Linked DNA regions of Homo sapiens: region 1 is linked to region 2. Evidence: fine-mapped QTL for protein levels in blood plasma. Region 2 holds a variant in brackets. A gene starts in the other region. All regions are shown on their forward strands. Region 1 holds the start of SFTPD (surfactant protein D). Region 2 has its middle 3.2 kb from the start of MUC5B.

The links. PIP is the posterior inclusion probability: the model's chance that the variant is causal. Protein levels are from antibody-based Olink assays in UK Biobank. Linkage for the fine-mapping came from a reference panel and not from the study's own genotypes, which makes the PIPs less certain.
Region 1: it holds the start of SFTPD, and the variant in region 2 is fine-mapped to the plasma level of the SFTPD protein (UK Biobank, PIP above 0.99).

The regions. Positions count from the first base shown.
Region 1 is chr10:79,946,655-79,952,020 of GRCh38, forward strand. It overlaps SFTPD (surfactant protein D), which reads right to left and starts at 2,451. Exons shown (of 8, transcript NM_003019.5): 1 at 2,412-2,451; 2 at 1-8. The coding sequence starts at 5.
Region 2 is chr11:1,217,148-1,222,514 of GRCh38, forward strand. No RefSeq gene overlaps it. Among named protein-coding and RNA genes, the nearest start is that of MUC5B, 3.2 kb to the right of the region's middle. The variant G/T (reference allele first, on the strand shown) is at 2,844.

The DNA of each region.
Region 1 (5,366 bases), not on the chromosome of region 2:
AGCATGGCCTGGAGAGGTGAACAGAAAGAGAAAAGACATGCTTATGCTTCATGGACATGGTTTAGGGCTTGGCTCAGCTTCTAGAGGTGACAAGAAGCCCCCATTCCCTCCTTCTGTCCTCTGCTATGGGGCCTAGAGCAGCAGGAATCCAAAAGCAGTTTAAGGACAAGGAGGGCACAAGGTCTGGATGGAGAGCATGAGTTACCCAGCTGGAACTCTGACATAGGTTGACAGCAGCATCCCCCATTCCCAGGTGCTCATGTCTTCCCTTCTTGTGCCTTCCCTTGGGCACTAAGTTTGGCACAGTGGCTAGGATGTAGCATTCCTCACTGGGGCCATCTGTCACATCAAGAAGGGTTCATTGAGTGCCTCTGGGCAGGACACCCCCCGCCCACTCCCTAGACCATCTCCCTGTCTGTACCACTGAGGCAACTGGCTTAGCTCAGACAAGGCAAGCCTGTTTCTTCTCTCTTGCTGCCTTGCATGGACTAGCACTGGTGCTGATAGTGCTGGTCTGAAAATGCAGCCAGAGTCCTGAGTGCTTAGTAATGTCCTTCCTGAGCGCAGGCTGGGAGTGTGGTGCACATTTGCCTGGCAATTTGCCATTCCTCGAGCAGGTGCTGTCTCTAGAGAAAAGTCCCAGAGGGAACCCAGGTGAAAGTTTTCAGAGACACTAAACTAGCAGTAGGAGAAATCCTGAGACACCTAGAGTTCTTCTAAGACCTGAGAGGGTTTGGAAAAGAAGTATGTGGAGTCTGGGCACGGTCGCTCATGCCTGTAACCCCAGCACTTTGGGAGGCCGAGGCGGGCAGATCACTTGAAGTCAGGAGTTCGAGACCAGCCTGGCCAACATGGCAAAACCCCATCTCTACTAAAAGTATAAAAAATTAGCCAGATGTGGTGGTGCGTGCTGTAATCCCAGCTACTCGGGAGGCTGAGGCAGGAGAATCTCTTGAACCCGGGAGGTGGAGGGTGCAGTGAGCCGAGATCGTGCCACTGCACTCCAGCCTGGGCAAGAGAGTGAGACTCCATCTCAGAAAAAAAAAGAAGTCTTATATGGAAAGAGGACATGCCAGGTAGGCTCAGTCAGGCAGAAAGCTAGTGTTGTGGGTAAGCAAGAGCAACTACCCAACAGGGCACCCATTTACTATCTAAGATGGTCAGGAACTGAGACCAGGATAAGAGCAGGACCTGGGACATTAACTGTTTTGGGTATCTTTTCTCTCAATGAGAAACCGTAAAGTTATGAGAGTGAAAAGAGCTGATCAGATTCGCAGAGGCTAGGAACAAAGCCAGAGGGACTTGTGCAAAGAAAGGGGTCACCAGGCCAACTGGGGTGGTGGCAAGTGGGGGGCTTCCTGCCCAGAGGAGTGCCTTCTTCTTTGACTGCTGGTGATTCTGGGCTGTGGATGACCCCTATTTCTCACTAGCCTCTTTCAATTTTGAAATCACCACTTCCTTGGGTATCCTGGTAGTCTCTAGAAACACCTGGGTGAGCTCACTGCCAGCAGCGGCTACCTTGTTACACCTGTTCTGGCAGAGGCTCAATCATGAGCAGCAAGGGCCAGACCCAGGCCAGAGCAAGGGCATTGTTCTGTGCCCCGCAGCTCCCTCACCCCTCAGGCCCTGTGTCTGATTCTGGGGAAGAATGAAAGGCAATAGGCATTCTGTCTACAGGCTCAAGATGGCACAGAAGGCACCAGCAGCCACTGTGGCTTGAAGGACACTTGGAGAGGGCAGACCCGGGTTTTCAGGCCCAGGATTCAGATGAGGCATCTTAGCTGGGGCAGCAGATGGAGTGGGCAGAGTTGTGGTCCCCCTCAACCCCTGCAGTGCCCAGTTTATGCTAAGCTTTCAGAGTACAATTTCATTGAAAAGGCCATCTCCTCTGAACATGGATTGGAAAATCAGAGACCTACTCCAGTAAGTATATTTTTTAAAGTAAAGACCTGAAGCTATGAGAAAAACAGGCTTGCCCTGCTTTTCCACAGGCTGTTGGCACCAGGATGGGTTTAGAACCCCAGCCTGTGAGTGCCTGGGTTTGTCTCTCTTCCACTGTCCTTTCTGAAGAAATCAGTGCAGAAAAGAGCCTAGAGATAAATTAGCATTGCATTTTTCCACCTGAAGCTTCCACACTGTGGCATCCCAGGTCTAGATAGTGTCACACCCACTCTTCCACCCTGTGCACCCCCAGCTCAGAAAGCAAATCCTCCCCTGGGCTGAGGCCACTGAATAAGGGGCAGAAGAGCACCATAAGACCTCCTGTGCTCCCCACCTCCTGCGCCCATGCCTCCTAGACCAGAACAGCTACACAGACCCTCCACACCAATAGGTTGAATTGCCCAGGTCGGCAGAGGGATATTTATAGGATGTGGAGAAAATAAAAAGAAGGCAAGAACAGAGACACTTACAGGTTTCTTTTTGTTAGGCCCCAGGAGCTCCAAGCAAACTAGCCTTTGCTTGGCAGGCACTCACTATTTATGCCTGCCCTGTACCCTGAGCTGCCCAGCCCCAAAAACTCCCTTCAAGAAGTGGGGCAATTTTCTTCTTTATTGACTCACTCACTCTTATCCCCACCTGCGTTCTGGAAACCTGCCACTGATATTCACAATACTATGCACATCCATCACTATAGTTTGCAGAACACTATCAGGCCTTGAACTCATCTGCACCTTTCTCACTGCAGCTCTGTGAATTAAGTGGCATCATCAGTGTCTGTATTTTATAGATGTCTAGAAATCAGGAGTCCAGAGACCAGCAGGTTGCACAATGACCTACAGCGATTGCAAAAGGAACTCACAACTGCAGATCTTAAGAGCCAAGACCTGCTGTGTCCACTTCTCCTCTTCCTTTGTCTCAACAGCACTGCCCAGATATTGGGAAAGAGCTGAGAGCTGCTTGGAATACCTGGGCAGGGGTGGGGCAGGTAGAGTGGCTGCAGAGGCAGCAGCATGTGGGGGCAGCAGCTAGGGAGCTGCCACCTGGAAAGAGTTGCTCTTTTGCATGCTGCTCTAGGCCTCAGAGAGCCCCTGCCTTGCTTGTCTTTTGTGGGATGGATTTCCCTTAGCAGACCTCTGCCTTGCCTTGTTCAGGCTTGTTCTCCCTGCCATCTTAGCTGGTGTTTGTCTTGTGCACTGTTCTTGTAACTAGTTAGGACCCCTGAGCTGATGCTACTTTTATCCAATCTTTTAGTCTGTATGTATTTTTTTTTTTTTTGAGACAGTCTCACTCTGTCACCCAGGCTAGAGTGCCATAATGCATTTATAGCTCACTGCAGCCTCAAACTCCTGGGCTCAAGTGATTGTCCTGCCTCAGCCTCTTTACAGGTGAGCATGATCACACCTGGCTAATTTCTCTTTTTAATTTTTTACAGAGATGGGGTCTCACTCTGTTGCCCACGCTGGTCTCAAACTCCTGGTCTCAAGCAATTCTCCTGCCTCAGCCTACCGAAGTTCTGAGATTACAAGTGTAAGCCATCATACCCAGCACCAATCTGTATCTTTTAAGTGGAACATTTACTCCATTTATTATCAAGGTTAATATTGATATGTGATGTTTTGTTCCTGTCATGATAATTGTTACCCAGTTGCTTTTTAGTCTCAATTATGTAATTGCTTTATATAATCTGTGAGTTTTTCACTTTAATGTGCTTTTATGATGAGGAGTATTGTCCATTCATTTCCATGTTTAGAACTTTAAGCATTTCTTGTAGTGCTGGTCTTGTGGTGACAAATTCCCTTTGCATTTGTTGTATGGGAAAAACTTTATTTCTCCTTCATTTATGCAGCTTAGTTTAGCAGGATACAAAATTCTTGGCTGGCAGGATTTTTGTTTAAGTAGATTAAACATAAGACCCCAATCTCTTCTGGCTTGTAAGGTTTCTGCTAAGAAGTCCATTGTTAGTCTGTTGGGTTTTCCTGTATAGATTAGACATTTCTCTCTTGCTGCTTTTAGGATGTTTTCCTTCACATTGACTTTGGATAGTCTGATGACGATATGCCTTTATGAGGTTTCTCTTGTAAAGCATCTTCCAGGTGTTCTCTGAGCATCTCCTATCTGGATGTCTAATTCTCTAGCAAGACCAGGGAAGTTTTCCTGAATTATTCCCTCAAATAGGTTTTCCAAGCTTTTAATTTTTTTTCTTCTCCCTCAGGAATGTCTATATATTGTATATTTGGTAACTTTATGTAATTCTATATTTTTCAAAGTCTTTGTTCATTTTTAAAAATTTATTTTTTCTGTATTTCTGTCTGACTAGGTTAATTCAAATGACTGGCCTTCAGGCTCTGAAATTATTTCTTCTGCTTGGTCTAGTCTTTTGCTAAAAGTTTCAACTATATTTTATAGTTCCTTCAATAAATTTTTATTTCTAGAAGTTCTATTTGGTTTTTGTTTTTTAATCTCTATCTCTTTTGTAAATTTTTCATTAATATCCTGAATTATTTTTCTGATTTCCTTATGTTAGTTTTCAACTTTCTCTTGTATCTCATTGAGCTTCCTTACAACTCATATCTTAAATTCTTTATTTGTTATTTCAAAATTTTTATATTGGTTAGGATCCATTGCTAGGGAGCTGGTGTGATCCTTTGGGCATGTCAAAATACTGGTTTTTCGTACTTCCAGAGTGCTTATGCTGATTTCTTCTCATCTAGAGAACCCGTTACTTCTTACTTTTGAACTTACTCTCATTTGAATGGGATTTTTTCCCCCTTTGAAGGTGTGACTGTATGTTGTGTGTGATCATTTGGCTTCAATTTTGGGTGCCTTCCGTGGGTCACAGCTCTGTATGAGTTCCTTGGTCATAGATAGCTTTTGTGTGGTGGCTTTATTATGCTGTATAGATAGCTTTTGTGTGGTGGCTTTATTATGCTGATTGTAGTAGCAATGTATTGGGCATATGAGCAGGAATACTACCTTCTGAGGGGCTGGGAATGTGGAAGTCTCTGAAAGTTTATCTCATTCCCCAGCACTATACCCTCTGTCAGCCTGTTTTTTATTTGGTTGTGCAATTCAATCTGCATCCCAATAAAAGCTGGCTGTGGCATAAGCTGATGGGTACTTGGTCTTTGTTTTCTGGGAGGGGATCTCTGTTGTCACAGGCAGTTGGCTGGTCTGTGGATGGCCTGATTCCCTGAAGGGAACACAAAGCTTTGGAGGGGGACACAAAACTGAGGGGCACTAAACGACCAAGCTCACCCTGGGAAACCCCAATTATGAGCAGAAGCAACTGCCTTGATGGGAGTGGAAATGGGAGCTCATGGTGAAAGGCACTGATGTCTCCACCAGAGTGGGAAGGAGTATACCAGCTCCACATCCTGGGAAGGCAGGAAGGCAATCCACTTTCCTAAAACACCCTTGTCCCGGAG
Region 2 (5,367 bases):
AAATTGGAACCGCCGTGCATGGCTGGCGGGAGCATAAAACGGCACAGCCGCTGTGGAGCAGTCTAGCAGCTGCTCAGAAAGCCAAACATAGACTTACCGTGTGACCCAGCCATTCTGCTCCCAGCCAGAGGGACTCCTAGCTGAGGAACTGGAAACAGGGACTCAGATTCCTGGGCACATTGCGATGTCCATCGCAGCCTCATTCACAAAACCAAAAGGCAGAAGCAGCCCGAGGGTCCACCGACGGGCGAATTGATGAACCCAGCGGGGCCCATCCACGCAGTGGAAAATGACTCTGCCTTAAACAAGGAAGGAGACCCAGACATAGGCAACAACACGGACGAAACTTGAGGACATGGTGCTCCGTGAAACAAGCCAGTCACATCAGAATGGGTATTGTATGAGTCCATTTATACGAGGTCCTCTAGAGGACCAAACTTACGGAGAGAGTTGAGGTTGGTGGATGCGTGGGGCTCGGGGAGGGGAGTGGGAGCTGGTGTTTCATGGGGACGGAGTTTCAGTGCAGGGCGATGGGAAAGCTCTGGGGATGGTCGGACAACAGTGTAAGTGGACTTAATGCTCCTATATTAATTTAAAAATGGCAAAATGGGTGGCGCGGTGGCTCACTCCTGTCATCCCAGCACTTTGGGAGGCTGAGGCAGGCGGATCACGAGGTCAAGAGATTGGGACCATCCTGGCCAACATGGTGAAACCCCGTCTCTACTAAAAATACAAAAATTAGCTGGGCGTGGTGGTGCACACCTGTAGTCCCAGCTACTTGGGAGGCTGAGGCAGGAGACTCGCTTGAACTGAGGGAGCAGAGGTTGCAGTGAGCTGAGATCGAGCCACTGCACTCCAGCCTGGCGACAGAACAAGACTCCATCTCAAAAAAAAAAAAAAAAAAATTGCAAATTGGGCGGTGTGGTGGCTGACTCCTCTCATCCCAGCACTTTGGGAGGCTGAGGTGGGAGGATCGCTTGAGGCTGGGAGTTCATGACAGCCTGGGCAACAGAGTGAGACCTCGTCTCTACAAAAACAAACAAACAAACAAACAAGACTAAAATGATCAATGTTATGTCACATACACTTCACCACTGTTTTAGAAAAAATGCCCTATAGTTTTCCTGCTTTAAATGATCGGATCAATTCGCCCCACTCCCCCGGGCTCCTCCCCACACCTGACCCTGCCCTCACTTCTGGCTCCCCTCAGCCCCCTGTGCCCCAGCCCCAGCCACACCAGGTGCATTTGGACCCTCCAGGTCGCCGAGTTCATCCCCGCCTCGGCGTCTCTGCACCTGCTGTTCCCTGGTTTACAGCTCAACCGTCATCCTCCCACCCCACCCAGAGGACCATCCTCTTTTGTTCCTTGGAAGCTGGTGCTGCTGCTGCAAAGTCCATGCTACTGGAAGCCTCGAAGTAGGGGGGATTCTGTTCTAGTCTTTGTCAAATCCCACTGCCCATGGCAGCACCAGGACCCAGTTGGGGCTCCTTGGAACTGGCAGGAAGGAATCGGGTGGGGAGACAGGCAGAGAAGGGGGTCTGTGCAAAGACCAGGAGAAACCAGAGACAGGTCGTGGCGGGGGCTGAGACCTTCACACAGGGCAGGGGCCGCCCCGGGGGGTTCTCCTTGTCTTGCAGCCCCTGTGCAGGGCATCCTCAGAGCAGGGGCAGCCCAGGGCACCGGGACGCCCAGGTGGAAGGTGACCTGCCATCCTGCAGCTTCACTTCCTGCCGGGTGATTCGGTACCCCTGGTTGTGCCTGTCGCTCAGTGGGCCAGGGTCTAAGGGCTGTGAAGACTCAACATGCCCCCACCTGCTACTTCTGAACACCAGGCACTGGCTCTGAGACCCCCGGGCCTTGCTGGACATCTCCCCAGGTGTACTGGGCCAGGGGACAGGGGCCTGGCCATCCCAACACCCAGGAGCAAGCAGCCCGTCACCTGCCCAGGTCCCCGAGGCCTGGAACACCTTCCTGCTGGGCCCACCCAGCCCTGGACCTGTCCCGCTTGGTCACACGATGGGACCCTCGGCCCATCAGCAGGTGAGCCCCCAGGAGCGTGCGTCTGGCCTGGTAAGGCCTCCACCCCAGGAGTTGGGGGGCCCCCGTGCCAGGGAGCAGGAGGCTGCCGAGGTGGAGGGTCCCACACAGCTACCACTCCCTATCCCCAGCACAGCCTGGGGCCTGGCTCTGAGTACACATCCTGGGGCCTGGCTCTGAGCAGACCAAGAGCCCATCCCTGCTTTGTGACCCCCTGGGCTGTGCCTGACACCCCAGGTGTCCAGCGTGGAGCTGGGGCCCAGCTCAGTGCCTGGGAGCTGATGGACCCTGGGGCCCGGCTCAGTGCCTGGTGGCTGATGGACACTGGGGCCTGGCTCAAACCTGCACCGCTGTGGTCGGGGGAGGGGAGGGCTGAGCCACGTGGGGACCCCAGCCCCAGTGACGACTCTTTGCGGTGGCCAAGCCCTCCAGGTGTCCCCCAGGGCTGAGGGGCTGGGCTTGGGGCAGCTGGTGACAGCAGATGGTGGCCCTGATCACTGGTGCCTGGACGGCCTCTGAAGGGGTCTGTGGGGTCCTGGACGGGTCCCCATTCATGGCAGGATTAACCCCCCTCGGGTTCTGTGTGGTCTAGGCCGCCCCTTTGTCTCCACTGCCCCCTGGCCAGAATGAGGGACAGTGACCCACCCAGGGCTGGGCCTGGCTCAGACTCCGTCAGAGCCGCAGGGCAAGTTCCTGGCACGTCCGAGGTGGGAGGCTCCTCTGCGCTCCAGGAGGCTGTGCCTGGCCCCCCTTCCCGGCAGGAACCGGCTGTGTCCCTTTCCTTCCTTTATCTTCTGTTTTCAGC[G/T]CCTTCAACTGTGAAGAGGTGAACTCTTCAAACACGCTGAGCAAACAGGCCCGACTCCCAGGGCCGCATCCGGGATGTCTCAATAGCTGTGGCCTTGACGTCCACCTCGGACCCCTGCCCCGGACCCAGCCCAGTTCCCAATGGGCCCTCTGCCCGGGGAGGTGCCTAGTGGGAGGGACGAGGGCAAAGTCGGGGCCCCCACTTGTTTGGTGTCACTGTGTGCCAGCGGCCACTGGCGGGCGAGGCTGTTCCAGGGTGGAGGCGGGGAGGGTTGGACCACAGGCACTGAGCGGGGACAGAGGAGCTGCCTGAGGGTCCCAGCTCTGCCATGGAGAAAACGCTATCTCGCTGATGCAGAGGTGCCCGGCCCACTCGAGCTGGGGGTGAGGGGGCTGCTCCCCAGTGGGCCGCCAGCCCCCATGAAGGCCGCGGGCACCGGCCGTGGTCAGGGAGGGCAGGGGACAGGCAGTGGGGGCCAGCAGGGGAGACACTAGGCTTGGCCCCAGCACCCAGGTGGGCATCGGCTTGTGAGCTGGAGCCGCGGGCAGGGAGGGGGGATGTCACGAGGGCTTGGCTAAGGTGGGAGACCTGGGCGGGTGCGTCGGGGGGACGTCTGCAGCAGAGGCCCGGGCAGCAGGCACACCCCTCCTGCCAGTGCGAGGAACGAGGCGCCACAGCGGCCGGTAGCCCCCCATTTGCCCAGCCTGGCCTGGAGCAGGCAGGAAGGCCGGGGAGAGGGGTCTGGCTGGGGCCTGGGTGCAGTCACAGCCACGAGCCCAGGGGTGGGGACTCTGGCCCACCCTCCAGACCATCCTCAAGGCCCACTGGCCCAGGCATCCCCGCCCACCCCTCCCACCGTGCCGTGCTGCAGCGGGTCTACCGGCCTGGATGTGAAAGAGAGCTTGGAGACCCCAGAGACCTCGGAACCTTCAGCTTTGGAAGTGACGTCGGTGGGGTGGGTGGGGGGAGCACAGGCTCTGGAGTCCCGGAAGTGAGCGGGGAGCTACGCTGAGATCTGGGAGACCCCCTGCCCCCACCCAGGTACAGGGCCAGGCAGAAGCCCGAGGTGTGCCCTGAGTTAAAGAAACCGTCACAAAGAACAAAGGGAGAAGGCGGGTTCCAGCCTCCACCACAGCCCTCGCGCTCTGAGGAGCCACCTGGGGGCCTCAGCCATGAGGGGTGACAGGTGGCAAAACGGGCCAGCTCCGTTCACGTCGCTGTGCAGCTGTCTCCGCCCTCCATCTCCAGAACGTTCTCACATTCCCAAGCTGAAACCCTGTCCCCATGCAACACCAGCTCACCATCCCCTCTGCCAGCCCCTGGCGCCCACCGTCCACACTCCGTCTCTGCGGGTTTCATGACTCCAGGGGCAGCACACGAGTGGCCCCTCCTGCCTTTGTCCTCTGTGTCCACCTGCCTCACTCTGCACAGTGTCCCCAGCTTCCCCCATGGAGCAGCCTGGGCCAGCCTCTCCTTTTCACGGCTGAACCGTATTCCACCGCACGGATCAGCCTCACGATGCTGACCCAGTCCTCCGCCCAGGGACACATGGGCAGCTTCTGCCCTTTGTCAGTGATGCTGCTGTGGACATGGGTGTGCAAATGTCCCTCAGGACCCGCCTTCAGTTCTTCTGGGGACAGACCCAGAGTGGAGTTGCTGGTCACCCCCACCAGCAGGGCACAGGGCTCCGGGTCCCCACGTCTCTGCCAACACTTCCTACTTCCTGTGTTTCTTGATCCCCGCCATCCTATTGAGCGTGAGACAGGTCAGAAGCTTTGAAGATGGGCTTTCGTCTTGTCCCAGAAATCCCACCTCTAAGAATTTAACTTCAGAAAGACAAACGCGGGGGAGCTGGTGCAGGGCCCGTGACGGGGACTGTGACGTAAATAAAACAACAGACCTGGACACCACCCTAGGGTCCCCATGGGGCCGGACGAGGCCACACCACCCGACCTGGTGCTTCCTGCCTGGCGTCTGCGCCACGGAGCATTCAGGACGCTGGTGACCAGGGAGCCAGGAGGTGGGAGCATCTGAGGTGCAGGTCACACGGGCAGGAGGTGTTTGCAAGAGGTATTGCAGCGCGGACGGAGTGTCCTGCAGATGACGCTGTCTGTCCTGTAGATGACGCTCGTCAAGGAGGTTTACCACATAGCCCCCAGGAAGCCCACCCGACACCAGCCGGAGGTGCTAGGCTTCTGCGGCTCCCACCTGGGGCAGGCGGAGGACCCCGGGCAGGTCCAGGACCCCCCGGAGCAGCTGCTTCCTCAACCCTGCCAGGGTTAATGAGGAGGCCCCAGAGTGAGGTGGAGGCCAAATGGGACTCAGGGCCGGAGCCTCTGGCCTGGCTGGATCAGGGCTGGCATTGGACAAGCGCAGCTGACTCCCGATGTGCATGGCCAGGAGACACTCTGGGCCTCAGTTTCCCCTTGAATGTGAACCTTGAAACAGATCAGCCCAGAGACCTCCCACGGTCTTCAAGGGGCTCTGGTCAGCTGGGCTGGGGTCTCTGGAAATAGAGCCTCCT